Linked DNA regions of Homo sapiens: all the other regions are reported to be linked to region 2. The links are microRNA targets in miRTarBase. Many come from high-throughput screens and were not tested one by one. Region 2 holds a microRNA gene; each other region holds the end of a gene's coding sequence.

The links. The annotated mature microRNA hsa-miR-6881-3p reads AUCCUCUUUCGUCCUUCCCACU and lies in region 2 at 4,740-4,761, shown strand. An mRNA with a match to its seed (bases 2 to 7 or 8) in the 3' UTR can be bound and repressed. Matches are read on the target gene's strand: a 7mer-m8 pairs with bases 2 to 8, a 7mer-A1 pairs with bases 2 to 7 and ends in A, and an 8mer does both.
Region 1: the mRNA of RBMS3 is a reported target of hsa-miR-6881-3p. Seed matches in the 3' UTR shown: 8mer at 6,301-6,308.
Region 3: the mRNA of GATD3 is a reported target of hsa-miR-6881-3p. The part of its 3' UTR that is shown has no 7-base or 8-base seed match.
Region 4: miRTarBase lists RAPGEF6 as a target of hsa-miR-6881-3p. Seed matches in the 3' UTR shown: 7mer-m8 at 5,353-5,359.

Annotation. Positions count from the first base shown.
Region 1 is chr3:30,003,298-30,010,415 of GRCh38, reverse strand. It overlaps RBMS3 (RNA binding motif single stranded interacting protein 3), which reads right to left. Exons shown (of 15, transcript NM_001003793.3): 15 at 30-6,560. The coding sequence ends at 6,554. Among named protein-coding and RNA genes, the nearest start is that of RBMS3-AS1, 73 kb to the right of the region's middle.
Region 2 is chr15:74,409,018-74,416,121 of GRCh38, reverse strand. It overlaps MIR6881 (microRNA 6881), which reads left to right and starts at 4,690; the gene lies at 4,690-4,765. It overlaps SEMA7A (semaphorin 7A (JohnMiltonHagen blood group)), which reads left to right. Exons shown (of 14, transcript NM_003612.5): 8 at 137-321; 9 at 1,176-1,284; 10 at 1,377-1,575; 11 at 4,110-4,237; 12 at 4,412-4,566; 13 at 4,766-4,827; 14 at 5,137-6,833. The coding sequence ends at 5,498. RefSeq lists enhancers at 3,472-3,972, 3,973-4,473, 6,479-6,738, 6,382-6,882.
Region 3 is chr21:44,143,760-44,150,877 of GRCh38, reverse strand. GATD3 (glutamine amidotransferase class 1 domain containing 3) reads right to left here. Exons shown (of 7, transcript NM_004649.8): 7 at 5,167-6,057. The coding sequence ends at 5,929. Among named protein-coding and RNA genes, the nearest start is that of LINC01678, 13 kb to the left of the region's middle. RefSeq lists an enhancer at 4,016-4,675.
Region 4 is chr5:131,420,792-131,427,909 of GRCh38, forward strand. RAPGEF6 (Rap guanine nucleotide exchange factor 6) reads right to left here. Exons shown (of 28, transcript NM_016340.6): 28 at 3,130-6,500. The coding sequence ends at 6,475. LOC105379173 (a long non-coding RNA gene) reads right to left here and starts at 1,911. Exons shown (of 3, transcript XR_007058929.1): 1 at 1,219-1,911.

The DNA.
Region 1 (7,118 bases), not on the chromosome of region 2:
GTGCAGAAAAACACAACAGCCCTATTCAATTGATTTTATTTTCATTTTTTATTGAAAGCTTCATCAAAGAAAACAGAAGTTTAAACCTAACATCCACTGATCTACAGAAAGCCCAAGGGATGGGGGAGATGGTTGCTAATTTGACTGTGGTACAGATGAAGAAATTAAAAATAAAACCAGAAACACCTTAGAATTACAGAACTTTCCATGACAGTCAGAGACAGCAGTACAAAAATGCTCTTAAATAAAGTTCAAAATTGAATGATGTTTCAGAAGTTCCATGAAGTTGAATATGGACTGAAACAAGGGTTTTAAAAGAAGCTGTGTCCCTTTTTTTTTTTATAGAGACTGAATATCTCATAGCAGATACTACTACATATATTTTTTTAAATTAAGATTCCATTTTTCTTCTTCTTCTTTTGAAATAAATGGAAGCATTTGTGTCCAGAATAGAGAAAACTTTTTCAAATATCTTTTTGAAATAATTTTTACAGTTCCTGAAAAGCATGGAATAACTTATTTTTTTATATATGAAGAGATAACATATTTGAGGGAGGAGGAAAAAACATCTTTCTCAATAATCTTAGACCAGAGGGTTTGAAACAAAATATAACATTAAAGTTACACTTTGGACATTGTTTAAATTTGATGTGATCATAAAAATAATCCACGGGGGTGTCAAAGTCATTCGGCCTTAATAAGTAACGCAGTCAAAATGTAATGAAAACAATGCAATAGTTTTGGTCAAAGAAAGATTTAAAAATATGAATATGACTGTACCAAGAGCTACCGTTATACTCTCATTGCAGAAGTCGTGTTGATCCGTGCTACTGGTTCAAATTTAGTGGAGTGAAGGAAACAAAAATAGCTTTCTTTTGAGGGAAGCTGAATTCTTTGCTATGATTTTTTTCCCATATATTCTGCAAGAATTTAGCCAACTCTCAATTATTTGTGGTAGATAAGAAAAGACATTATAGATAATCAAAATTTATGACATATAATGTACTGATATTAATTTTACCAATGATTTCAAACCCCCTTAAGAAATTAATACTTTATAAGAAATAAAATAATCAAATTTTATTTCCAATTGTTTGTTCCACCCTCAGGTGACATGCTAATAAAAGGAAACAGAGCCCAAGCCCTACACGCTGAAAAGAAAAAACAAAACACACCCACAAAGTAGATAATTAGCCCTTCAAAAATTGAGAGTGATTGTATTTATGCACAATTTAGAAATTGGGGCAGTAGTAAGAAAAGCTCAAGTATGACTCAGTGGCCTAGTGGTTCTTCCTGCAGATCCAAGCTTGACTGCACCTCTACTTCAGCTTTAAAGCTTTCTAAGTGGAAGAAAATTTTCTTGATATATTATTTTCCCTCACAAAAATAAACAGAAATGAATATTGAAAGCCATTCATCCCTTTTTTGCTATAGAGAGTATCTATATGTTAGAGTATAAAGCCAATGATAAAAGAAATTAATCTGGGGTGAACTCTTGTCTCTCACATCATAAAAGGTCTTTGGGGCCAGTTGGGGATTTAGTGTTTAGTTTTTGTACTTTCCTGAATGCTATGTAATCCGCAAAGGACAGCCATGACCAAGAGCATTTGGATTAAAGGACCAATTTCATACTTAAGAATGTTTGGTAAGAAATGTTAAACTTGAGTCAGACCCAACTGTCTTCCAATGCCACAGTGGATGTCATTTGTAAAACAAATTGATTCATTAATGAAATCCCATTATCACTTGCCACAGGAAGGGTAGAGTGTACAGAATCAATGAGCCTGTTTAAATTCTGTCAATCCCTCAGATTGAAGTGAGAGGCTGTCAGTCCCAGTAAGCTCAAAATTTTGAAGCATGCCAGCTACAATAACATGAAAGACAAAATCTCATCCTTCACTTTTTACTGAAGACAAAGTAATATAGATCAAGGTTCTATGACAGGTTTAAGCTTTATTATAGTGTGTGATTCCTCAAATGTGCTGAATGTTGTTATACACGTACATAAACATTGTCCCTTTACTTGATTTCAAATCATATAAAAAAACATTTATTAGTGAAACCCACTTGAGAATTTCTGCTTATCAGCTCATCTGCAGTGGTTCATGCACTCAAATTAAGAATGAAAATGAATTGCCAAATGTATTTTAATCTCCTATTAACATCATAATGTCTAGACAGCCTATTGAAACTTCTCCTCAGTCGTGAAGATGACTGCAAGAGTCCTAATTAAATCAAATTTCACTTTTCATTAATAGGGGTTTTAGGCCACTGTAAAAAAAAATAGGTATTTAGCAAATATCCCAATTATTTAAATAAAGAGGTTTTTTTGGGAAAAAAAAATTACTTTTTTGGAGTCATGCATAAATTGAAAGTACTTTTAAAGCACTTTGCAAGGGGTCCAAAGATGTATTTTTAGGCATAGTAAAATAAAGTGAAATTCCTGCTTTAAACAGCCTTCTTCAGTTCTCAGCCTTATATTTCTAATGAGAGTGCTTTTAACACCATGCAGTTTTTCATTAGAAGGGGGTGGAAGTGAGTCATATGCTTTCAAATGTGACAGATCTGCTAAGGTCACAGGAGGAAGTAATTCAAGTGAAATTTGGAGGTAACATTCTGAAATGTTGAAATCTACCAAGGAAACAAACTAATCCTCGCAAAACTAGAGTCAGGTAGAGGACTGTTTTAAAAGAGTATTATGACATTTGCAATATTCAAGACATGTCAGCATTCAAGGACAAACTGTCATCAGCACCTGCCAGTATGACCTTCAGTTCACTTGGGCTCATTACGTTGTCTTTAGAAGACATGGCCATGTATTGGGGAGCTCCAAGTTACCATGAACACTTTGCCTCCCTTGACAATACCATACCATTATTAAAAGAAAACTCACTGTTGCACTGACCATGAAACTAGAGTTTAGACGAGACAGTGTTTCTCTCATTTGGATTGTGGCTTTAGTTTGTTTCCTGATGTTTAAGCTAAGTCTTGGCTATTAAAGTCAAAAGGAAAAATGGAAACATCCAAATAAATGCTTGAAAATCTGGTGGACCAGAATGCACAGAAAATTAACTTCAACTTAAAGAAAAAAAAAAAGATTATAGTCCTAGTTAGGATGGGCGACAGAGCGAGACTCCGTCTCAAACAAACAAACAAACAAATCACTACAATATATTTTGTTGATTAAATTTGAATTCTGTTGTCTGTATATATTGAAAACTTATTTTGGTTTATTACCACACAATGTAATGCTGCTTACCTGTTGATGCTTTTTTTTCTCTCCCAGACTTGGCTCTTCAAAACAAGTCTTAGGTAAGACAACAGACAAAGCAGGGCAAATTTGAGTATGTGCCGTTGTTTTCCTTCTATTTTTTTTCTTTTTGGTTTGAAAACATACATTTTATAGAATGGCATGATATAAACTATCCAAACACAAAACACACATGAACACATCAAATGACAGGTCATTTCCTTTTGCAGAAACTGGCTTAAAAAATTGATATTGAAATTTCATAGTTGAAAAAAATATTTCTGAATGTACAAATAAAGCAGCAGTTTTGAATAGAAACAGGAAGTTACCTAGGCACATTCATTAGCCACATGGTAGCTACCTCTTAGCCTCATTGTTGATTGTGTGAATGAGACTTTCTTTGTATCACATTAATACATGTTTTTGGTTATTTTTTCACAAAAATGAAAGAAAGTATGTTGGTTTCATATTCAAATGAATTATGCCCAGGATAATCCTTATTTATACAAAAAGAGTTTAGAGAGTGAAAAAGAGAAACAGAAAATATGGTTCTCATACATGTCTTTTTGTACCCCAAAAAACTTTGGGGCCCACTTTTCAAAGATAAAAACTTAAGTGCCACCTTTATAATGCATGGGAAGCTGAAGGATGGAACAAAAGACAGTATAAATCTAGCATTTTCTCTAAAGCATGAAAAACCATAATGGTGAGTGTGACCAGTTGGAATTTCTCTATAACGCACACTACATTTTCTTGGATACACTTTTGTCTCCAATGTGACCATAAATATATGGAGTCATTCTCTGATTTGGGCTTCCAGTGCATGGGGTTGCAAATAAGAGAACCAGAGTTTACAGAAATAGTAGAATATTGACAATTTCACATGAGTCAACCTTATTACTCATGTTGACCTAATGGGAATATGATTTACCTTTAAAACTTTTTAGTTTTTAAAAAGCCTACCCTGTTTTATAGTACACTTAAATACATTTCCCTGCTTCTTTTGGACTAAGACAGGCTCCTGTGACTGACTTAGTTTTTGAAAAGAGTTTCACCTATTTGATTCAAAGGATTCATTCAGAAAGCAATCTAGTGAATGGTTCACTTAACAAATTCTATTCCATTGTCCTTAATTTCAGGTAAAACTGTAAAGGTTGAACACATATCATCTCATGAATTAAAAATGTAGATATATTTTACAGGTGGGTCAATTTAATTCATTTTAGACAAAGTTTTGCATTGTTCTAAATGCAAGTATTCCTCCTTGGCTTAAATGATTGATCAAACCTAATTCTTTTGGTTCTTATTGATATAAATCATACTGTTCCTTGATTGTCAACTAGCATTTTAAGGACTTCCCTAAATTCCACCAATAGAATTCTCAATCTTATTGGTCCTACATGCCTCAAAGAATTAAACTGAAAGAAAAAGTTCTTTCGGCAACACCAATATACAAAAATACAGTGAAAACAGGCAAAAAGATGATACCCCCTCCCCATTTGCAAAACCAAGGTGACTATTCATGGTAGGTGATGACAAAGACAGAGGTGTAAAGACAAAACCCAGAGGTGTTGTAATTTAGAGGGAAGACTATTGTTCAAATACAATGAGACCTTTCCAGGAGACCACTCACCATTTCACAGAATATCCCTAAGCTTTTTTGACAAATGACCTTTCAGACCAGGTCCAGAAAGTGTCTTTAGCTGAAATTTCATATAAAGAATATTCCACCTGTTAAATAAGCATCTTGGTTTACTAGTGGCCATCAATACAGGTTTCACTATTCAAGACAGCTAGTGAGAAACCAGAAAAGCTCACAGAATTTAAAGCCACTTGGCTCTATGAATCAGTTCATATCCAGAACTCTTCATGCTGAAACTGCTAAACACAGCAGGTACAAGCTTCTGCTATCAATGAATACACATTTAAAGAAAAGAGAGACAACTCCCCCCACCCTCTTTTTTTTTTTGCACTATGTAAAACACCAGTGGAAGGTAGTTTAAACAAACAACAAAGAAAGAACTGGTCCGGCCATGTCGGTCAAATAAATTTTTTTTTTTTTAAAAAGAAAAGAAACGAAAACAACCTCTATCTTCTGGACTGTAATAGGGTGTCACTTCATCTTTGGTATAAAATAGGCCATCCATAGGCTGAATTTGATCACAACTAGGAAAGACTACAGAAATTGTCAACAATTTCTCTATCTATTGCTTTTTTTTTGTTTTTTTTTTTGCACTTTTTGACCATAAGCTCCTATCTACTTAAGTTTTTTTTTTTAATGCTCTTAAGCTAGGTTTTGCAATGTGACAAGCAAAGCTGACTAAAAACTTTGTAAAGCTCATAAAAAAGACTGCAGATAAAAAGCACTAATGCTTTTGCTAGCGATCACGCTTTGTAAATTAAAAAAATCTGCATTCTGCCCCCCAAACACGCATTATTTCTAATGCAGTTGTTTTTAAACCAACCTTAATAACTTTACTGTAAAATGTTTTAGCCTTTTAGAATGATTCATGTCAACACTTAAGACAAAGTTCATGAAAAGTCCCAGCATTTTTCCAATTCTTGCAGTTGCCATGGTTTATCAACAAATTTTCTTCAAATGAAGAAAAACATTTTCATTTAAACTGTACAGTTTTTTCTTCACCCTAAAAACTCATAGTCTTAAACTTCTGTGCCAGTGAAAGCCGGCACAGTATTTCAATTCTTTCTTGATTTTTGTTTTCAACAAGACGTTGACAGCTTGCCTCGAGAGCCTTTGACGTCCTTAAAATTAAGGCAATTAAGATTCAAGATAAACCTTACCTACATATTTCTAAGAAAAAATAAAATAAAAAACCCACTAGATTAAAACAAGAAGGGAAAAAGAGAAAGTAGCTTAATTATTGAGGAAGACAATTTGTTTCCATTTCTATTGCCCACCTCTTGACATCAGGTTTTCTGTTAAAAAAAAAAAAAAAGTATCTACACCTTCAGAAAAATTCTGAATTCAATTCAAATGTTCTTCCACATAAAATATCAACCTTCAATGTTTTGTTTTTTGTAGTTTTTTTTTCCTCTTCTGGAAATTTTTTCTTTAATTAAAAAAATGATGGCAAAAATAAATTGTCAGACCACATGAAGACCATTTGCACAGCACATAAAAACTTTGCTTTCATTGGGTAAGGTATAACACTAAAAAAAAAACAACAACAACAACAAAAAAATGCATTCCATTGACGTCTGTGCAAACTGGAAGCCAACTTCTTGTTCAATGAAGTTTCTTCATTCAAGGCAAAGATTCAGACAGACATTCTTCAGTCCTGTTTATGGTCTGTGAAAACAATTGAATAAGAGTGGTCATTAAATTAAAGTAACTTTGAAATCACCTTCTGTGCCCTTTTCCAATGAGGCAGCTTTAAAAGATACCAAGCTTTCAATGTAACATAGTCACAAAAGCATCATAAAATCATACTGAGTCTATGAGATTGTCAAATTCTGCCACTTTCATTTAAATACAGATTTGGGCCAGAGAGTTTGTTTACATTAAAAATCAAGGGTAATAGCTTATGTTATAGCTCCTTACAGATCCTTTGAGTAATTCTGTTCCTTCAAAACTACTATAGGAATCATCACTAATTCCAGCAACAAATATGAGATTCTTTACTATGCACCCAAAATAACTGGGTTGTATGTTATCTCATGGTATTCATCACGTACATTTACATAAGGCTTATTGCCTGAGGAAATAAGTGAGACAGTTAAGAGGCCAATGCAGTTTTATTCTCTTTTCCTCTTCCCCTTCTCTACTTTCTTGTTCATTCCCCCTGTCAAGATTATAAATTTGTGAGAGCAGGAACTATATTTTACTTCTACCCTTTACCCTTTAGGC
Region 2 (7,104 bases):
CGGCAGGTCCTGGCCCCTCACAGCCTGCCTTCCTCCTCTGGGCCCAGGTGTTGATATTGCTGGCAGTGGTTTCCTGGGGTGTGTGGGGAAGCCCGGGCAGGTGCTGAGGGGCCTCTTCTCCCCTCTACCCTTCCAGGGGGACCAGGGTGGGGAAAGTTCACTGTCAGTCTCCAAGTGGAACACTTTTCTGAAAGCCATGCTGGTATGCAGTGATGCTGCCACCAACAAGAACTTCAACAGGCTGCAAGACGTCTTCCTGCTCCCTGACCCCAGCGGCCAGTGGAGGGACACCAGGGTCTATGGTGTTTTCTCCAACCCCTGGTGAGTGGCCCTTGTCCTGGGGCCGGGGCTGGCATTGGTTCAGTGTCCAGTAGGGACAGGAGGCCTTGGGCCCTGCTGAGGGCCTCCCTGGTGTGGCAGGAGCAGGGGCTGCAGGCTCAAGAGGCTGGGCTGTTGCTGGGTGTGGGGTGGGGGGACAGCCAGTGCGATGTATGTACTGTTGTGTGAGTGAGTCTGCACTCATGGGTGTGTGTGCATGCCCTATATGCACACTCATGACTGCACTTGTGCCTGTGTGTCCCACCACCTGCTTGTGCCGAGAGTGGACACTGGGCCCAGGAGGAAGCTGCTGAAGCATCTCTCGGGGAGCTGGGTGCTATTACACCTGCTCAGGCACTGCCTGAGCCCGATAATTCACACTTCTTAATCACTCTCATTGATTGAACACACGGCAGGCGGAAGTGTTGGGTGTGTGTGGGGAGAGTTAGGGATAGAGTGGAGGAAGCCAAGACCCTGCTCTGTGGCTCCTGGGTGAGTGGGGTCCCCCAGGCTGGGAAGGGGTTGGGGGTCTGGCCTCCTGGGGCATCAGCACCCCACAGCCTGTGCCCAGGGAGGGCTAGAGAACTGCTCAGCCTATGATGGGGTTCCTCCTGCCTTGGGGTTGGGTAGAGCAGATGGCCTCTAGACTCAGTGATTCTGTAACAGGATACAAGTTTGTGGTTTTAAATTGCAGCACAAAGAAATTAGGCTGAACTCCTCTCCTTCCTCCTCTCCATCCCTCCCCATTTTCAGTGGTGGTTGGCAACTCAGTGCCAGGCACAAGGCTGGCCTGGGTGAGTGGAGGTGGATGGGTGGGTTCTGGGCCCCCCATTGAGCTGGTCTCCATGTCACTGCAGGAACTACTCAGCCGTCTGTGTGTATTCCCTCGGTGACATTGACAAGGTCTTCCGTACCTCCTCACTCAAGGGCTACCACTCAAGCCTTCCCAACCCGCGGCCTGGCAAGGTGAGCGTGACACCAGCCGTGGCCCAGGCCCAGCCCTCCTTCTGCCTCACCTCCCACCACCCCACTGACCTGGGCCTGCTCTCCTTGCCCAGTGCCTCCCAGACCAGCAGCCGATACCCACAGAGACCTTCCAGGTGGCTGACCGTCACCCAGAGGTGGCGCAGAGGGTGGAGCCCATGGGGCCTCTGAAGACGCCATTGTTCCACTCTAAATACCACTACCAGAAAGTGGCCGTCCACCGCATGCAAGCCAGCCACGGGGAGACCTTTCATGTGCTTTACCTAACTACAGGTGAGAGGCTACCCCGGGACCCTCAGTTTGCTTTGTAAAAACGGGCATGAAAGGTGTAAGGAATAATGTAGTTAACATCTGGTTGGATCTTTACATGTGGAAGGAATAATTGAGTGACTGGAGTTGTCAGGGGTTAATGTGTGTGGGTGTGGAAGAGTCAGGCAGGGAGAGCTTCCTGGAGGAGGTAGGGGCAAGAGGGAAAGGGGGATGGGAGAAAAGCAAGCACTGGGATTTGGAGGCGGAAATCTGGAGAGTCTGAGCAAAGCCAGGTGCACCTTTGGTCCAGATGTCTGACTCAGGGAAGAAGATGGTAGGAAGAGACGTGGCAAATGAGGAGGAGGGGCCTGAACCACAGGGATACTGGCCTCTGCCAGGCAGAATGAGGGAGTCAGGCCCTGCGCCTGTCTTTGGGATTGTGCAGGTGAGAGGAAACATTTGAGGAGTTGATGGGGCACAAATTAGGTATGAGGAAGGAGTTCCAGGGGGCAGAACCTTTGCCATCTCACAGAGGACAGGGGCAGCTTCTCTTCTTCCCTGGAGTAGGCCCTGCTGGGGGAAGCTGGGTGGAATGCCGTGGGAGATGCTCCTGCTTTCTGGAAAGCCACAGGACACGGAGGAGCCAGTCCTGAGTTGGGTTTGTCGCAGCTTCCCATGCCAGCTGCCTTCCTTGAGACTGGAAAGGGCCTCTAGCACCCCTGGGGCCATTCAATTCAGGCCCAGGCGCCCAACCTCAGTTGTTCACATTCCCCATGTGATCTCCTGTTGCTGCTTCACCTTGGAACTGTCTCGGCTTTGGTGACCTTGTAGGAAACTGGAACCCCAGCACCATTGTTTGGCTCCTGGAAGCCTTGGGGAGAGGAATTTCCCACAGGGCAGGGCCTGGGTCCTGATTCCCTGCCTCTTTACTCCCTATTCATCCCGGCTACACCCTTGGGCCCCCATCCTTGCTTGGCTCCAGTAGTGGCTGGCACAGCTGTTGTGGTCAGCCAGGGATGGCAGGGCACTGGGGAGCAGAAGAGGAGAGGTCACACAGTGCGGAACTGGGAGCAGGAGCTAGGACAAGGAAGGCTGGACTTGGGCCATGGATTCCCTTCCTGCAGACTTGGGAGGTGAGCACACTTGAGTGATTAGAGAAGGTGTCTTCGTTCTAAGGGCAGTGGAGGAGGCACCATTTTGGAGCCTGCATCATTCGTATTTGGGCTAGACTGAAAAATAGAGCTTTCTAAGTCCTCTGCAGAGAATGGGAGGCTCTCACAACTGGGAGAAGTATTGGCTCTTTTCCTGAGAATTTTGCCAAGGGTATGCTGTTACTGGGGCTGGTTTGGAAGGAGGTATAGGGCAGTATGTCTGTGAAGGCAGTGGCTGGGGTGGGGCCTTATCAGGCCCAAGGAGCATCTGGCCACATCTCAGAGTCCACAGATGAGGATCACGGATGTGTAGAGGAAACATCCTAGGCAGGCAATCATCTGACTGCTTTTTTGGGGCAGGTGATGCCCTGGGAAATTGGGAGGGAGGGAGAGAGGGAGGTAGGCTATTCTAGAAACTGGGAGAGCAGGTGAGGTAGGATTGGGAGGACCAGGGGTCAGGGTGCCCATTGGTCCCTAATTGTGAACGGAGAGAGCATTGGTCTAGGAGGCAGGCAGCTCGGTTATAAGACCTTGGGAACTCTTGATTTAGAATCCAAGATCCTTTTTAGATCTAAGATTTTATAAAATTAAGATATCCCCTAAGATCAAATGCAACGTGGAGTCCTGAATTGGATCCTAGAACAGAAGAAGGACATTTGTGGAAAAACTAGTGAAATCCAAATAAAGTCTGTAGTTTTGTTAATAGTAATGCACCAATGTCAGTTGCCTAGTTGTGACAAATATACCGTGGTTATGTAAGATGGTAACATTAGGGGGAACTGGAGAAGGGTAGATTGGAGCTCTCTGTACTATCTTTGCAACTTTTCTGGGAATCTAAAATTACTCCAAAATAAAAAAAAAATGTATTTAAAGTAAATATATTCCCTAAGAGTCCAGGAGGCAGGGGAGTTGTAGAAGCAGCTGAGTGGTTGGGCTCTGACAGATTTGGGTTCCAACTCGGTCTCTGCTGCTCACCAGCTGTGTGACCTTGAGCAAGTGGCTTAGCCTTTCTGAGCCTGATTTCCTTATCTGTGGAGTGGGGAAGATGACAGCCACCTCGCAGGGCTGTGGAGGGTTAAACGAGGTGATGCATGGACAGCAGCCGCACTGACCTTGCTGGTGTGGGGCTCCTGCTTCTGTTCTTCCCGTGCAGCCTTGGGAATGTTGGAGGCCGTATCCAGGGACCCCTGGGCCTCCTGGGATGGCCTCTCTGGATCAGCCTTGGAAGGTTCCAGGCTGCCCTTAGGCTCCCACATTCTTCCCCAGTCACGCTCTCCTCGCCCTGCCCACACCAGTCCTGTGACCCTTGCCTGAGTTGTGACTTCCCACCCCTCCCCGGCCTAGAGGAAAGCTGCCTGGCCCCTCAGTGGGACTCCCGCCCACTGACCCTCTGTCCACCATACACAGACAGGGGCACTATCCACAAGGTGGTGGAACCGGGGGAGCAGGAGCACAGCTTCGCCTTCAACATCATGGAGATCCAGCCCTTCCGCCGCGCGGCTGCCATCCAGACCATGTCGCTGGATGCTGAGCGGGTGAGCCTTCCCCCACTGCGTCCCATGGGCTATGCAGTGACTGCAGCTGAGGACAGGGCTCCTTTGCATGTGATTTGTGTGTTCTTTTAAGAGCTTCTAGGCCTTAGGGCCTGGACATTTAGGACTGAGTGTGGGGTGGGGCCCGGGCCTGACCCAATCCTGCTGTCCTTCCAGAGGAAGCTGTATGTGAGCTCCCAGTGGGAGGTGAGCCAGGTGCCCCTGGACCTGTGTGAGGTCTATGGCGGGGGCTGCCACGGTTGCCTCATGTCCCGAGACCCCTACTGCGGCTGGGACCAAGGCCGCTGCATCTCCATCTACAGCTCCGAACGGTACGTTGGCCGGGATCCCTCGTCCCTGGGAGAAGGTGGGCATGGGAGAGGGGGAGGTGTTGTCGGGCTGGAGGAGGTGGCGGTACTGGGCCTTTCTTGTGGGACCCTCCTCTCTGCTGGAACTGCACTGGGGTAAGGATAGGAGGGTCAGGTCTGCAGCCTTGTATCTGCTGATCCTCTTTCGTCCTTCCCACTCCAGGTCAGTGCTGCAATCCATTAATCCAGCCGAGCCACACAAGGAGTGTCCCAACCCCAAACCAGGTACCTGATCTGGCCCTGCTGGCGGCTGTGGCCCAATGAGTGGGGTACTGCCCTGCCCTGATTGTCCTGGTCTGAGGGAGACATGGCCTTGTCCTGTGGGCCCCAGGTACATGGGGCAGGATACAGTCCTGCAGAGGGAGCCCTCTTGGTGGGATGAGCGAGACGGGAGAAAAAAGGAGGACGCTGAGGGCTGGGTTCCCCACGTTCATTCAGAAGCCTTGTCCTGGGATCCCAGTCCGTGGGGAGGACACATCCTCCCCTGGGAGCTCTTTGTCCCTCCTCACGGCTGCTTCCCCACTGCCTCCCCAGACAAGGCCCCACTGCAGAAGGTTTCCCTGGCCCCAAACTCTCGCTACTACCTGAGCTGCCCCATGGAATCCCGCCACGCCACCTACTCATGGCGCCACAAGGAGAACGTGGAGCAGAGCTGCGAACCTGGTCACCAGAGCCCCAACTGCATCCTGTTCATCGAGAACCTCACGGCGCAGCAGTACGGCCACTACTTCTGCGAGGCCCAGGAGGGCTCCTACTTCCGCGAGGCTCAGCACTGGCAGCTGCTGCCCGAGGACGGCATCATGGCCGAGCACCTGCTGGGTCATGCCTGTGCCCTGGCCGCCTCCCTCTGGCTGGGGGTGCTGCCCACACTCACTCTTGGCTTGCTGGTCCACTAGGGCCTCCCGAGGCTGGGCATGCCTCAGGCTTCTGCAGCCCAGGGCACTAGAACGTCTCACACTCAGAGCCGGCTGGCCCGGGAGCTCCTTGCCTGCCACTTCTTCCAGGGGACAGAATAACCCAGTGGAGGATGCCAGGCCTGGAGACGTCCAGCCGCAGGCGGCTGCTGGGCCCCAGGTGGCGCACGGATGGTGAGGGGCTGAGAATGAGGGCACCGACTGTGAAGCTGGGGCATCGATGACCCAAGACTTTATCTTCTGGAAAATATTTTTCAGACTCCTCAAACTTGACTAAATGCAGCGATGCTCCCAGCCCAAGAGCCCATGGGTCGGGGAGTGGGTTTGGATAGGAGAGCTGGGACTCCATCTCGACCCTGGGGCTGAGGCCTGAGTCCTTCTGGACTCTTGGTACCCACATTGCCTCCTTCCCCTCCCTCTCTCATGGCTGGGTGGCTGGTGTTCCTGAAGACCCAGGGCTACCCTCTGTCCAGCCCTGTCCTCTGCAGCTCCCTCTCTGGTCCTGGGTCCCACAGGACAGCCGCCTTGCATGTTTATTGAAGGATGTTTGCTTTCCGGACGGAAGGACGGAAAAAGCTCTATTTTTATGTTAGGCTTATTTCATGTATAGCTACTTCCGACTGCATCTGTATGAAAATACCAAAACTACATGCGGGGGGGTGGGTGGGAAAGGGAGGGGCTGGGAAGGGATGGGTTGGGGAGCGGGGGTGATCCCAGTCTGAGGCTCCCGGGGATGAGATAAGAGTCTGGAGACGGGCATGGGTTCTTGGAGAGTGGCATGAGCTGGCTCTGCCCTGGGAGCCCGGTCTGAGGGGGACGTTGTTGGAGCCCCTAGTGTTGGGGGTGGTTATGGGAGGGGGTGGGGTGAGGGAAACGGGAGAATGAAGGAGAAAACTGAGCCCTAGTTTCACCGTGTTCATTTGGAAGGACGAGCCGGGTCCTCAGGGGGAGGTTCCAGGACTCTGCCCTTGGCGTTGAGGGTTGGGGGGCGGGGGGCCTCCTCCCTTCCTCTCAGCCCCCTTCCCCAGGGGCTGTGCTTCCATGCTCCTAGCCTCCCACCTTCGCTCAGGACATGTTATAACTTAGGCTAAACTGTGAAAATTCCGGTGGGGATGGCCTGGGCCGAGCTCTCCAGGCAGGCGGCCCTGCCCCCAGCCCTGTCCATCCATTTCAGGGGGGAGCTGGGCCCTTCTCCGGCTGTGTCTGGCCACCCAGGGCAGTGGCTGGGGCCAGTGGCCTTCCAGCTTTGGCCCCTGCACCTCTTCTCAATGCACTTTAATAATGTAACATATTACTAATAAACAAGCTATTTATTTACCTGCGCCTGTTCCTTGCCTGCAAAGCTGTCCTGGTCAGGGGGTGTTGGTGGGGGCTCCTGTTTATTACTCGCCACCCCCTGGCTGCGTGAGCATCACATGCATTCTTTCATGTCCTGGTTAGGGCCCAGGAGCCAGCTCAGCAGGGCTGTAGCTAGTGAGAGGCAGGAATGGGGACCTGAACCCACGACTCCTCAGCAGCGTGCTGCTTGCTCGAGCCTTGACCCCAGAGCCCCAATAGCACGTGCACCCCTTTTCCCCATTCCCAGCCT
Region 3 (7,118 bases), not on the chromosome of region 2:
CTAGGGACCCTGGCTAGCGTCCCACCTGGGCTCCTGAAGTGTGAGATTGTGAGGGCGGCCTCTGCTGTGGGTGACAGTGCTGCCTGAGGCTGTGGTGGCAATTGGCGTGGTGCACTCTGTAGCATGGGTTGTCCAGGGAGGTGTTTGTGACAGGCTTCCCAGGGTCACGGGTGCTTGGGAGAAGCAGGAACAGGGCAGGGTCATACCAGGTGGACCAGGACAACCAGGGCTGGGTGTCCGGCCTCACGAGGACAGACCTCCCACAGCAGGCAGACCCTGCTCTCCTGGCGCTCAGGGCTATGGGTACTCCAGCCAGGCCCTCCTGGGGATCTGATCTCAGGGCCCTGGGGGCATGGTTTGGACATCTGATAGGGGCAGATTACAACTCTGAAGACTTGGCAGGCTCCGGACTTACTATAAAGCTACAGTACTCACGACAGGGTGTTGGCAAAACAGACCAGTGAAAGCGGAGAGAGAGCCCAGAAACAAATCCGCATGGAGAGTCAACTGGTCTGTGACAAAGCGGCAAAAGCAATGCAATGGGGCACAGCCTCCACCAAATGGAGCCAAACAACGGGGCGTTCACATTCCCAAAATGAATCCCAACACACACATTCCACCCCTACAGCAATTCACTCAGAATGATCACAGACCTAAATGTGAAATGCAAAACTATCAAACTCCTAGAAGATAACACAGGAGAAAATCTAGATGACCGAGGGTTTGGTGATGAGTTTTAAAAACACAAGACTGAGCCCAGTGGCTCCCACCTGGCATCCCAGCACTTTGGAAGGTTGAGGCAGGAGGATCAGTTGAGCCCAGGAGTTTGGGACCAGCCTGGGCAACACAGTGAGACCCTGTTTCTTTCTTTCTTTCTTTTTTTAATAAGGCGGGGGCGGACCACAATCCAAGAAGAAACCAGTGAGAAACTCGATTTCATTAAGATTAAAAACTGCTCTGTGAAGGCACTGTCAAGAGAATAAGAAGAACAAGCCCCAAACCTGGAGAAAATAACTAGAAATGAGATATCCATGAAAGGATTACGAGCCAAAATTTACAAACAACTCTTACAACTCAACAAAAAGAAAAGGGACAACCAATTTAAAAATAGGCAAACATTCTGAGCAGATACCTCACCAAAGAAGATACGCAGATGGTAAATAAGCCATGAAAAGGGGCTCAGCATCATATGTCAGTAGGAAATAGCAAATTAAAACAATATACCACTACACACCTATCAGCTGGCCAAAATCCAAAACACGAACACCACCAAATGCTGGTGAGGACGTGAAGCCACAGGAACGCCCATTCATTGCTGGTGGGAACACAAAATGGTGCAGCCACTTGGGAAGACAGTTTGGCAGCTTCTTGCAAAACTCTCACCATATGATCCGGCAATCACACTCCCTGGTAAATCCCCTTTGGGATTTACCCAAAAGAGGTGAAAATGTATGTCCACACCAAAACTTCCACACCGGTGTTTATAGCAGCTTTATTCATAAATGCCCCAAACTGGGACAAGCCTAAGATGCTCTTGAGAGAGGGTAAATGGATAAACTGTGGTAGAGCCAAACAATGGAATATTATTCGGCACTAAAAAGAAATGAGCTGTCAAGCCATGAAAACACACAGAGGAAATATAAATGCTATTACCAGGCGAAAGGAGTCAATCAGAAAAGGCCACATAGTGCATGAGTCCAACCACATGACATTCTGGAAAAGGCAAAACTGTGGGGACAGTAAAAACCATCAGTGGTTACGGGGGTGGAGGGTGGGGGAGGAACGGGCAGAGCCAAGGGTTTTCAGGGCAATGAAACCATTTTGCATTCTCTGTAAATGGCGGACCCGTGTCCTACATTTGTCCCAATCTACGGAATGGCTAACACCAAGAGTGGGCTCTAACGGATGCCGTGGACTCGGGGTGATGGCGCATCCGTGTGGGTTGGCTGCCTTAATAAATGTGTGCTCTGGCGGGCGGGGGTGTGCGGGGGTGATGGTGAGGGAGGCCGTGCATGCGTGGGGGCAGGGAGTGTGTGGGACTCTCTGTACCTTCTGCTCCATTTTGCCATGAAGCTAAGACTGCACTAGAAAATAAAGTCTATTTAAAACAAAACAGAAAAGGTGATGTTGAGGGAGCCCTAGAGGAAGACGCTGGCCAGCAGTAGGTGGGAGGGGCCTGGGAGAGGGCGGGCACCAAGGTGGGCGTGTCAGGTCCGTGAGCCTTGGGCCTCGCAGCACGCACTGGCCTGCTCATGCCCAGAGCCCACCACCTCAGAGCCCGGGCCTGGCCGGGGAAGGTGGAGGGCACCCATGAGGCCCCCATCCTCTCTCCTGACACTCCCAGTGCAGTGGGGAGACAGATGACAAAGCTGTGATACATGTGTACTCACAGACCTCGAGATCTGTGCAGCGAGTGGCCCAGGGACCCCTCCTCAGCCAGGGCGTGCTGGGAAGTCCTCTCTGCAGAGTGATGCTGAGAGCCGAGAGACAAGGGGAGCCAGTAATACAAAGAGGGGGGCTGGTCGTCCCAGGAGGGAGGGATGGAAGGTGTCAGGACCAGATGTGGGGAGTAGGCATGAACCCGGTCTAGGCACAGGAGAGGAAGGGGGTGGCTTGGACATATTTGGAGGCAAAACCCATAGCTGGCGGCAGAGGGAGGGGCAGGGAGAAACAGGTGGCTGGGACCAGTTTCTCATGGGGATCTGGGCACATGATGGCCCCCAAGACAGAGACAGGAAGAAGTACGCGTGGGGGGCCCAGTCTGGATATGCTGAGTGGGCGGTACCCCACTCCAAGTGTAGTGCACAGAGAAGGGCTGGAGTTACAGGCCTCCTTGGGCAGGGGTCTGAGACAGCAAGGAGCTCAGGGGGAGAAAGGGAAGGAGCAGCCTTCAAGAGAGCCTGGAGGTCAGAGCGGAAGACGTCCATCCCCAGGTAATGAGGGACTGGGAGGGACAGTCAGACCAGGTCTGGGGAGAAGAACACCAGGAAGGAAGAACAGGTGGGAATGGAGAAGCAGCTGGGAGTGGTGGGGGGGTTGGGGGTTGAGTGTGGAGGAGCTGGGAGTGGTAGGGGTGCTGGGGGTTGAGTGTGGAGGAGCTGGGAGTGGTGGGGGAGCTGGGGGTTGAGTGTGGAGCAGCTGGGAGTGGTGGGGGTGCTGGGGGTTGAGTGTGGAGGAGCTGGGAGTGGTGGGGGTGCTGGGGGCTGAGTGTGGAGCAGCTGGGAATGGTGGGGGAGCTGGGGGCTGAGTGTGGAGCAGGGGACTGAGTGTGGAGCAGCTGGGAGTGCTGGGGGAGCTGGGAGTGGTGGAGAAATGGAGAATGAAGAAAGGATTATCAGGGAATGGGGCATGTCCACAGGTGAAGCTCTGGTGACCTGGACAGGAGGTGAGGAGGTACCCTGGAAGGAAACAAGAGGGACAGGGCAAAGGGGTGGGGCATGTGGAGACCAGAGAGGGCTTCAGGAGAGGATAGCCCAGACTCTGATGGCACCAACAGGAAGCAGCTTGGTGAGGGGCCGCCTGCCCGTGGTCAGCCCCAAAGACAGTTCTGCCACGCCCCCTGGTGGCAGCACCTAAAGCCACAACCACGTTCCAGGGTGCACAGCCTGTGGGATGCAGAGGCCTCTGGGATGGCAGGACGGGCTGGTCCCGGGAACCATGCATGTCACCAGCGCCCCTCCCTCCCCACGCCCTGACCTTGAACCCCTGGTTAGCTCCTGTTCCCACTGGACCCCTTGTCCCCTTCCTTGATCACTTTATGCATGCCTGGCACTGCCATCCTCCTTCCCAGCATGTCCACACCCCCACCACTGCCAGGGGGACTCCATGGCTCACCGGGCCACATACTGGCTGCCCCCACCTGAACTCCAGGACGAGGGCATGCTCGTGACAATGCCCTTGGTACCTGAAGGTGCCTGGCACGCAGCAGCCACGGAGTCACTGTCCAGTGAACCCAGGACCAAACTCTCCTGCAGTGAACCCAGGACCAAGCTCTCCGGTTCTGTCACGGCCCCTCTCTGGGCTTCCCAACGTCCCAAGATCTATTTCTAGGGCTGGGGTTCTGGTGCTGCGCTGCCCGGAGCTGAGTCCCAGCCAAGCCCTACAAGCTGCAGGGCCCTGGGGGGAGCAAAGCCTCATCTGCAAGTGGGGACACTGAGGACCCACAGGGCCACCTGGGCTAAGGGCAGATGCAGGTGAGGACAGGCCTGGCCCAGCAGAAGCACCTGCGTGTGGGGCGCCACACTGGATCACCTCAGAGAGAGCGCGCAAACAAGCACGCAGCCAGTGCCTGCAGGAGGCTGAGAGGCTCTGGGGACAGTGCCACCGTTCCAGGCCCGAGCGATGGTTTTGCGTATTTGCTTTGTGGAAACCCCAAAGTGAATGCTTGTGACTTGTGCACTTTTCCATACACTCACACACACGTGAATAAACATGCGTGGTATACGGGTACCCCCCCTCCAGCCATGCAAAATGTGTCCCTACCAGCCTATGAGAAAGGGGAGGAGCCCCACCTTACCCTGGACATGGGAGGCTCCTCCGCTGCTGGGGACAGGGTAATCCTGGCCCCAAGGCGAGTGCTGTGGGCGTTTGCAGCGGGCGTGGGCGCCCGTGAGGACTTCCTGAGGCCCGGCCTCCGTGGGAGGAAGGCCACTGGAGAACCCAGCTCCCACGGAGGAAGAACCAGAAGTGTCCGGCTGAGACCCGATGCAGGGTGCACCGGGGCCTTCCTGCCTTACCCATGGGCCCCCCACGCCCTCTCAAGGCGGTAGAATGAATCCGCTGATTCCATGCAGTGGGTGGGGAGGGCCGAGGGGGTGTGGTGGGTACCAGTGCAATTGAGGGTTCGAGTCTTGTGGGACCAGGGCCTGCACCCCCATTCCGGGCCCAGCACCTGACACACAGGGAGGTGCAAACCAGACCACACGGAACAGCCACGCCAGCAGCCAGAGTGGGCGTTTCCCACACCGCCACCCAACACTGGGCAGCTCCTGCCACCCACCCAGCGTGGGGCCTCTCAGGCTGGCCTGGCCCTGGCTGCTCAGGCAGAGACAGACCCAAACAGCAACAGATATGTGACACTGAGTGAAGCGTGCAGACACCTGACTCCCACCCCAAATGTTTTCTTCCCCAAACAACCCTGAACACACAGATGAATGCAGCACAAAGTCTAACGCCAACACACTTTATTTCCCTTCGGACGCATCTGCAAGCTTCTGCCACACCTGAACCCACGGCCTGGCACCAACGCTACCATCACTCCCCAGAGGTCAATCCTGGGGGCTGAGGGGCTGCAATTTCCCTTTCTTCCTGAAAATTAAGAGAACTGAGACTAATTGAAGAAACCTCACTGCCATTCCTCACTCAGCAGTCTCAGCAGGTCTGAAATGTGGCTGTGGGAAGTTGCCATTTTGGGAAGGCGTTTATTCTCTGCGGCTACAGGGATTGCCTGCTTTAGAAATCCCCTTACGCTGATTAACTCAAAAGTCCCTTCAGAGTCAAGAACCAACCTTTCATGGTCCATAAATGTGGTATTTCTGGTTTCCTGATCAGGAGGCTTGCAAACCTAAAAATGTTCTTCCTTCCAAAAACTAACTAACCTGAAGTATAAAACCTCAGACGGCAGAATTTTCTATTTCTGGAAAAGCTGGCTGCGATTTGTTTTTGGGACACAGTGAGGCAAGTCCCTGTGGCAGAGAACGAATTGGCCCCTCGGCCTCTGTATGTGAGAGCAGCCCAGCCACACCCAGGAAGAAACATCCCCCATGCACTGCAGCACATCCTCCTTAGAGAGAGAACGCCTGCAGGTTTCGGCAAAGAAAAAAAAAAAAGGGCCTGCCAGACTCCCAGCTGGATGGAAAGCAGCCGACAGCTCCTCAGCCAGAGGGTGAGGCCAAGTCCTGGCGCCTAGCTGGGCCCCGTCCATGCGCGTCACTTTCCAGTGAGTTCCAGCACCTTCCTCACCATGGCTCCGATCCCATCATGGATGTAGTGGAGTGCCGTCTCGCACATGAAGGCTGGGGTCGTGACCACCTTGTTTTTCTGGTCCACGTGAGCTTCGTGTGCAGAGTTACGGAAAAAGCCACCCAGCACGGACCTGAGGGACTTTCAGGTGTGGAGCCCCGGCCCCTCCCCCACCCTCACCGCGTGTCCTAACTTTGTTCTCAGATAACTTGGAAGAGGAGAACTCGCTCCTGGTGCAGTCTGTGCCGGCAGGACCCTGCTTTCTGTATGATTTATGCTGCTGAACAACATAAGAAGGAACCTGTTCCCAATTCACATGCATTCTAGAGGAAGAAAGCAGCGGGAAATTCCAGGGAACGGGGCACCTTTCATGCCAGCATCACACAGGCCCAACACCCACACATGGCCACGAGCTGCCCCGCCATGGGGGCGCACACATGCCTGGGGTGCTCACAACCACCACGGGAGGCAGTGGCAGCACCTCCGCTTTTCAGATGAAGAACTGGCCGTGAAGGAGCCGGTCCTCATGGGGCAGGGCAACAGGCAACAGGGCAGCAGGTGGCACAACTGGGGCCGGCCAGCCACAGACCTGAGCCTCCCCAACACCATGCATGTAACCACTGGCCAGGCCTCCACACCACCCAAGACACGTGCCCCTATCTTCCTGCAAGCAGTCAGAGGCCTGGGGCCAGCCTTGCACTGCGCTCCTGCCCAGCAGGAAAGCCGCAGGGAGGGAGATGGGGCCTGACGTCTGAAGCTGCCTGTGAGAAAAAAGCTGCCCCATTGAGAGGAACTGCACCCTTCAGAACAACACCTGCAGGGGACCGGGTCCATGCTCTACTCATTCCAGTGCCTTCCGGCACCCCGGAGTGTTCTGTTCTCTCAGTTGGGCTCACATGGACATTCTCCCAGATCCAGGCAGGGCCTTCCAGGAGCCTCCCTCCAAATCTCCCTGGGCAACAGCCCCGCTGGTGTTCTTGGTCCATCATCTCAGAACTCAGGGTACACACCTCAACAGGAGGGGCTGGGGGCCGCAAGGCTGGCTGAATCACCTGGCCACCCAAACTGGCCTGAGAACTTCCGCCCAAATGAAGCCAGGAAGCCCCTTCTCCTGCACACCCGGCCGCTTTCCCCCAGCATCTCAGGAAGCCCCCGCC
Region 4 (7,118 bases), not on the chromosome of region 2:
ATGGTGAGGTAGGAGGGCAGGAGTAGACACGGAGGAATTAACACTATGAAATATATTATTAATTCACTAGACTAACAGGTAAGAGAAAAATAATTTGATCATCTCAATAAATTCAAGAAAAGCATTTGACATAATTCAACAGCATATACTTTCTTAGCAAGGTATAAATAAAACTTCCTTAAACTCATAAATACCACCAAAATCCTACAGCAATCACTATGCTCAACGGTGACATCCGAATGCGTTCTCGCTGAGATCAGGAACAAAGAAAGGAATTCCATTCTGACCACTTTTTGAGACAGGGTCTCACTCTGTCACCCAGGCTGGAATGCAGTAGTGTGATCAAAGCTCACCTCCTAGGCTCAAGTGATCCTTCTACCAACTAAGCCTTTTAAGTAGCTGGGACCACAGCTGTGCACTGGCACACCCAGCTAATTTTTTGTAGAGATGGGGTTTCACCATGTTGTCCAGGATGGTCTCGAACTCCCGGGCTCAAGCAATCCTCCCACCTCGGCCTCCCAAGGTGCTGGGATTACAGGTGTGAGCCACTGGATCTGGCCCACTCTGACCACTTCTATTCAACACTATACTGGGCATTTTGGCCAGTGCAGTAAGACAAGAAAAGAAACCAGCACTTTGGGAGGCCGAGGCGGGCGGATCACGAGGTCAGGAGATCGAGACCACCCTGGCTAACACGGTGAAACTCTGTCTCTACTTAAAAAAAAAAAAATACGAAAAATTAGCCAGGCGCAGTGGTGGGTGCCTGTAGTCCCAGCTACTCGGGAGGCTGAGGCAGGAGAATGGCGTGAACCTGGGAGGCAGAGCTTGCAGTGAGCCGAGATAGCACCACGCAGTCCGGCCTGGGCAAAAGAGCGAGACTCCGTCTCAATAACAACAACAACAACAACAACAAAAGACAAGAAAAGAAAATACAAAATGACTAGAAATAAATAAGTTATTATGAACAGATATGAGTATGCAGAAAATTCCAAGAGAATCCACAAATTGTTAGCATTAATAAATGAACTGAGCAAGAGAGCTAGATATAAGGTCATTATAAAAATCAATAGTTCAATACTGTAGCAACAAATAGTAAACAATTACAGACCTGAATAGACTTCACAAAATGGTCCAAATGGTCAATAAGTATTTGAAAAGATGCCTAGCATTATTAGTCACTATTAAAATTTAAACCACAAGATACCAGTATATACTTACCAGAATGTCTGAAATGAGAAAAATAATAGGCTGACCAGGCTTCTCCAGAGGCACCTTCTGGGAGAGCCAGTTCTTCTCTTCGTCTATCAAGTGCTTCTTGGGGGTGGAAGAAGTTAAAGGAAGTGTATTTCTGGACCAACACATCCTTAACTGCAGGGACTGGATTTCTGACATCAGACATATATAGTAACTTGCATTTGTTTCCTAGAGTTGCTGTAACAGATTACAACAAATCGGGTGGCTTTAAGACAACAGAAATTCATCATCTCACCATTTTGGAGGCCAGAAATCCAAAATCAAGATGTTGGCAAGGCACCATTTCCTCTAGAGGCTCTAGGAGAGAATACCTTCCTTGTCTCTTCTAGCTCCTGGAAGCTGTCAACATTACTCGACTTGTGGCTACATCCCTCTCTGCCATCTTCATGTTGCCTTCTTCTGGTATCTTCCTTTGTTTCTCTTACAAGGGCACTTGTGATGGCATTCAGGCCCCACTCATAATCTCATCTCTAAAATGCTTAATTACATCTGCAGAGACCCTTTTTCCAAATAAAGTAATATTTACAAGTTCTCCAGGGATTAGAGCTTGATATTTTGGGGTAGCCGTTTTTCAATTATACTTATTTTCTACTTAAAAAAAATTTCATTTCACCAGTGCCATCTGATACAAATATAAATATGTGTATTTTTTCTTTTCTTTTTTTTTTTTTTTGAGACAGTTTTGCTCGCTGCCCAGGCTGGAGTGCAATGGTGCAGTCTTGGCTCACTGCAACCTCCGCCTCCTGAGTTCAAGAGATTCTCCTACCTCAGCCTCCAAAGTAGCTGGGATTACACGACCCCGCCACCATGCCCCGCTAGTTTTTGTATTTTTAGTAGAAACGGGGTTTCACCATGTTGGCCAGGCTGGTCCTGAACTCCTGACCTCGTGATCCGCCTGCCTCGGCCTCCCAAAGTGCTGGGATAACAGGCGTGAGCCACCATGCCCGGTGAAGAAATATATTTTCTAAATAAAGAAACTAGTGAGACTGTGGAGAGATGGTCAGGGGGACAGAATGGCCTGGGAAAACCTGGTGAAGAGGGGGTGAACTGGAAGAAGGTAGAAGTCTTAGCTATAATGGGAGTAACATTCTCTGGGTACCGAGGGAAAACTGTGAGGAGATTTTAAAAAAGGAGCTAAAGTAGAATTTCCTTCTACTTTGCCAGGGTCCTGGGATCTAATCCCATAAAAGTGGCTGTATTTACATATACTGCCCAAAAGAGGGGGCAATAGGCATGCTTTCGTAGACCCAGCTGGCTGCCCATTTGAAATCTATTCTTTCCTTCTTCACTGAAGAGTCCTAAATTTGTTAGGAACATCAATTGCTCAGATAAAATAGATAATTTCCAAGGCACCCTTGGAGCTACCAGTCATGCAACAGAGGTCTAACTAATGGGATGTAAGTACAAACATGCAAGTGGAGCTTCTGGAAACTACTGTTTTGTTCTCTTTGCGTAGAAAGAGACACATATTTGCACCTTTTCCTTACCTAAGCCTATCCTTTTCACCCCTACTTTTGCCATCCTTGACAGCATCGTGGAGGAGTTACAGTATCAGCCCCGGACAGTTTTGTCTGTAGACTTTTCTACTGTAAGAAGAAAAAGAAACAGACAACAATAACAAAAAGACAAGCCCCAATTGAGTTTAAGCCACTGTTAACTTGGTATGCCATCAAACACAATTTTTTAAACCTAAACAATAGCTATGGTGTTTCACAGATTTGACATAACCAACAACAAATGGACCACTCCAATTTTTCTGGATAGTTAAAAAATAAGGCCTTCACACCAACACAGGTCCCAGACTGGCACTCTCGAATGACTAAGTTTGTAATTATTTCATCAGTTCCATACATTTATAATTAAGTACAGAGAAGATTAATGTAGATTCTTTATTGATTCCACCAATGTATTAGTAGATATGATAATAATAAATGGTATTTTTACATTCTCTTAACCAAAAATATAACAAATATTTACACTCAGTAAAAATACAAAAAGCATACAGAGGCACTGTCTTTCTAAAAGACATAAGTTTAAGAGGTATCAAAAAATAGGAGACAAACATTGCTTGTTACAGGATACCTTACAATCAATGAATTGTGCAGTAGAATTGCTATCTGATTATTACAGATGTGCAGTTTTGTTTCTGTCTTTTGCTGATTAGCTTACATGTCTCAATTTTAAAAGATCAAGTTCAACTGCATTCTGTGTATCAAAAATAAAGAAGCATTAAAAATGCACAACAAAAGTCAAAGATGAACCAGGATTCAAGTTTAAATTTGAACATGTACTGTGACACTTTTGACACTTTTCTGAAGATTTATCCCGTTTTTCTAGCCTTTAAGGTAATGCTGAAGGAATACATATACTTTAATATCACCTTTTTTAGAAACTTAAAATTGAATCAAAATAATCAGTTTTAAGGAAGCTTTTTCTCCTCCTTCCTTTTTTGTAGAGGAAAGAACACTTGATAAAAATTAGATTTGTTCTTAAAAACACCCATGATTACCATCACATTTTCAGCCTGGGAGAGATTCTCAAGGAGGTGATATAGATCGCAATGATGTGATTTATCACCCTCAAGAAAATTCACTAAAGGCTTTTTCTCCCCAAAGATCATATTGAAAGTAATCATTTGGAGTAAATTAGAATTATTAACTTTAATAAGCTTTTATGGAATCATGTACTGGATTTACTAATTCTCAAAATCTTTCACTATAAAGATATTTTGTTGAAACTTACTATTTGGCAAAAGTTTGCACTGAGCGTTAACTGCTTCAACAGTCTTGGCAGATTGAGAGTTGTGGCAGGAAGAGAGGGCACTAGTCTCTTCATTAAGATTATAAATTTATAAAACAAAAACAAATGGAGATCTGGAATTGGAGTAAATGCAGCTTAAGACTTCTCTTGTTCTAGTCATATGACAAACTAAGAGAAGGCAGGAATGTACCCTTAGTTAAAATATAAAAATCAAAACCTCATGATTTTTTAAGGGATACATACATAACAAACTACAAAGCATTTGGCTTTGGCTCCTGATCAATGTGATCAGCTGATCTGAACACTCACAGTTAAAGCTAGATAGATAAAACAAAGGCAGCTGTAAGGTGCAAGTCCAAAACCATAGGCCTCAACACTCTGTGCAAGATATTTACACTATTAAGGACAAAGACAGGTAAGGCTTCCATTTGGTTTGAAAGACCTGCTAAATAAAGACATTATGAAAACAGCACATTTTTCTGGGGAAATGAATATAAAATGGTGAGAGTAGACATCTGAATTTGATAAAAAAAGTGGGTATAGCAAAAATATATTTCACATTGTTTTGCTGTGGCCATGAAAACAAAATTATGCAAATCAGTGAAGGAAAAAATGTATAATCATAGGACCACTGTTTATAGGCCAAATCACTGAAGTGTAACTTTCAAACTAGGATTTTTGGTTCAGGTTATTTCCCATTTCAAAGGACCAAGAAAGCTATGGAACCACCAAGCCTCATTCTATCATACCTGCGATTAATTTCTAAGGCTTAAGTTTCAGATTAATGTTTCTTTACCACAGGAATTTTTGAAATGCTATTATTCCTAAAATAAAGAGACAATCATGTTGATGGGAAAGATGAACTACTACCATTTACCACTTACAACTGATTCATGATTTTAAAATGAAGGGGGATATGCAGGAAGACAGACAGCAGAGACAGCTAGGGAAAGACAACACATTTCTATAAAGGAGGCCACAAACCAACTAAATCCTATGTGGACACATACGGACAGCCATTCAGAAGTAAACCCCTTTTGGCTCCAAGTTGATCTGGGTAGTGCACGTTAATGGCTTTGGCTTTTTTTTTTTTTTTTTTTTTGGTAATTACAGAAGTTTATTAAAATTTCACTTGCTTTTACATTAAAAAAACTGAAAAAATTAAACTTAATATATATAAAATATATTTAATTTGCAAAAATGTGAAAAATCTGCCTCATCCAGTAAACAGTCACTGAAATTTTAATTAAGAGTGCCATACCCATGAGGCTGGAAAAGTATGTCCTCTCAAGGGCTAAAAACTGAGAACCAAGAGACAATCATTTCTGTAACTCCAGCTCCTCTTTCTCCCACAAAATGTTACTGCAGCCAGCTGAGAGCTGCAGGGTATGTCAGGTCAGACACAACCTGGTGCTATGAGATGTGGGGGAGGCATGCTGCAGAACACTGCATAAAGTCAAATTCGTCTTCATTATTACAACACCCATGATAAGAATTTCTTTAAAAAAAGTATTCCATACTTGAGTTATGAGAGATTTTAGTTTTGGGTTTCTATAGACCAGAACTCTCTAGAACCCAGTCTCTATTTGTTGGATCTATACTTTCAGTTACAATTCGATGCAGCATAACTTTCACTTAAGGAAGAATTTGTATACATGTCATTTAACATCAAAATTTCATTCTGTGGAAATTAGGGTTCCCACCCTCCTCCCCAAACTACTCCCTCCCATTTCCCAAAGGACTGACAAGAAACCCTGTGGCAGCTTCATTTGGCCTTCCACACCATGACCAGCAGGTTCCTAACACCTCAACTGCAAAGGGCTTCCTATTTCTCTCAAACTGAGACCTACATTGCATTGGTGCTACAGATCAAGTCACATCTCTGTGTAGATCAAGCATATCACCTCTGTAAAGATGACTTCTGTTTGGTCAGACCAGAGACAATTTTATGACCTCAAACATGAATATCAGCTAACAAGAGCTCTCAAATACAAACAAAACCACAACAATTCAAATAATAAGTTATTTTTCAAATATACAAGAATATCCTTGGTATTGGCAGACAATTTCAATTTGTCCTTCAGCCCAAGCTATGGCTTGGAAATAATAATGCCATTATCTTTAAAATAGCTTGTTAAAGAAAAATCTATAGCAATATACACAAGGATCACTCTGAGTTTACATTTTTTCTGTAACTGTGGTCCCAAGGCAGTTCCGGCGTGCAAAGTGGAGACTGGTATCCAGGCATAGCATCCATTGCTCAGGAAACTATTTATCTGCAGAAATTAAATGAAAGGAAGCATAACTCAGGTCTATTTCATTGCTCGGAGTAGAGGGAATAAAACCTCTGGACTGGTTGTAGCAATGAGCTGTTCGTTAGCAATGGCCTGCAGAATCATGAGGTGGTTCTTGCCCATTCCTCCACGACTTTCAGTGGTTTTCAAATAGGTCATCCAAAGGCTAGACTGCTGAAACTTGTTCATTTTCTGAAAATAAAAAATATATAATTAACTGGCAGATCAGCATATTAATGAGATCCTAATAATCTAGTTATCTATTTAGAAAATCAATGTCAACAAAGAAATCCTCTCAAACATTGCATCGAGGCCCAGATTTTATTATAATAATACCTATGATTTCTGATCACATTGAAGGTTGACAATAAACTGGAATTTCATGGTTTTTAATCATTTTATTACTCTTGTTTAAAAGCATAAATTTTCATTTATTTTCAATAAAACAATCATTTCTCAAACTATTGGCACAGGTACAAAGTCAGTCAAGACTTTTGCTAATAAAAGGAACTATATCAATAGAATCATTTCAGATAATTTGGCATTTGAAACACAGTTTCAAGTTTCCATGCATTAAGGTAAAATACAATTCCATTAATGTTAAAAGTATCCCATTAGATTGAGCCACTGTTTCATCAAAGATAAGAATATTCCATTTGAGCCACAGGGTACTAGGCACACAGAAATAGGCAGCTTGCCCATTTCATTTAAAAAATACACCATCAGTGCGGGGTACAGTGGCTCACACCCATAACCCCAACTTTGTGGGAGACTGAGGCTGGCAGATTGCTTGAGTCCAGGAGTTCAAGA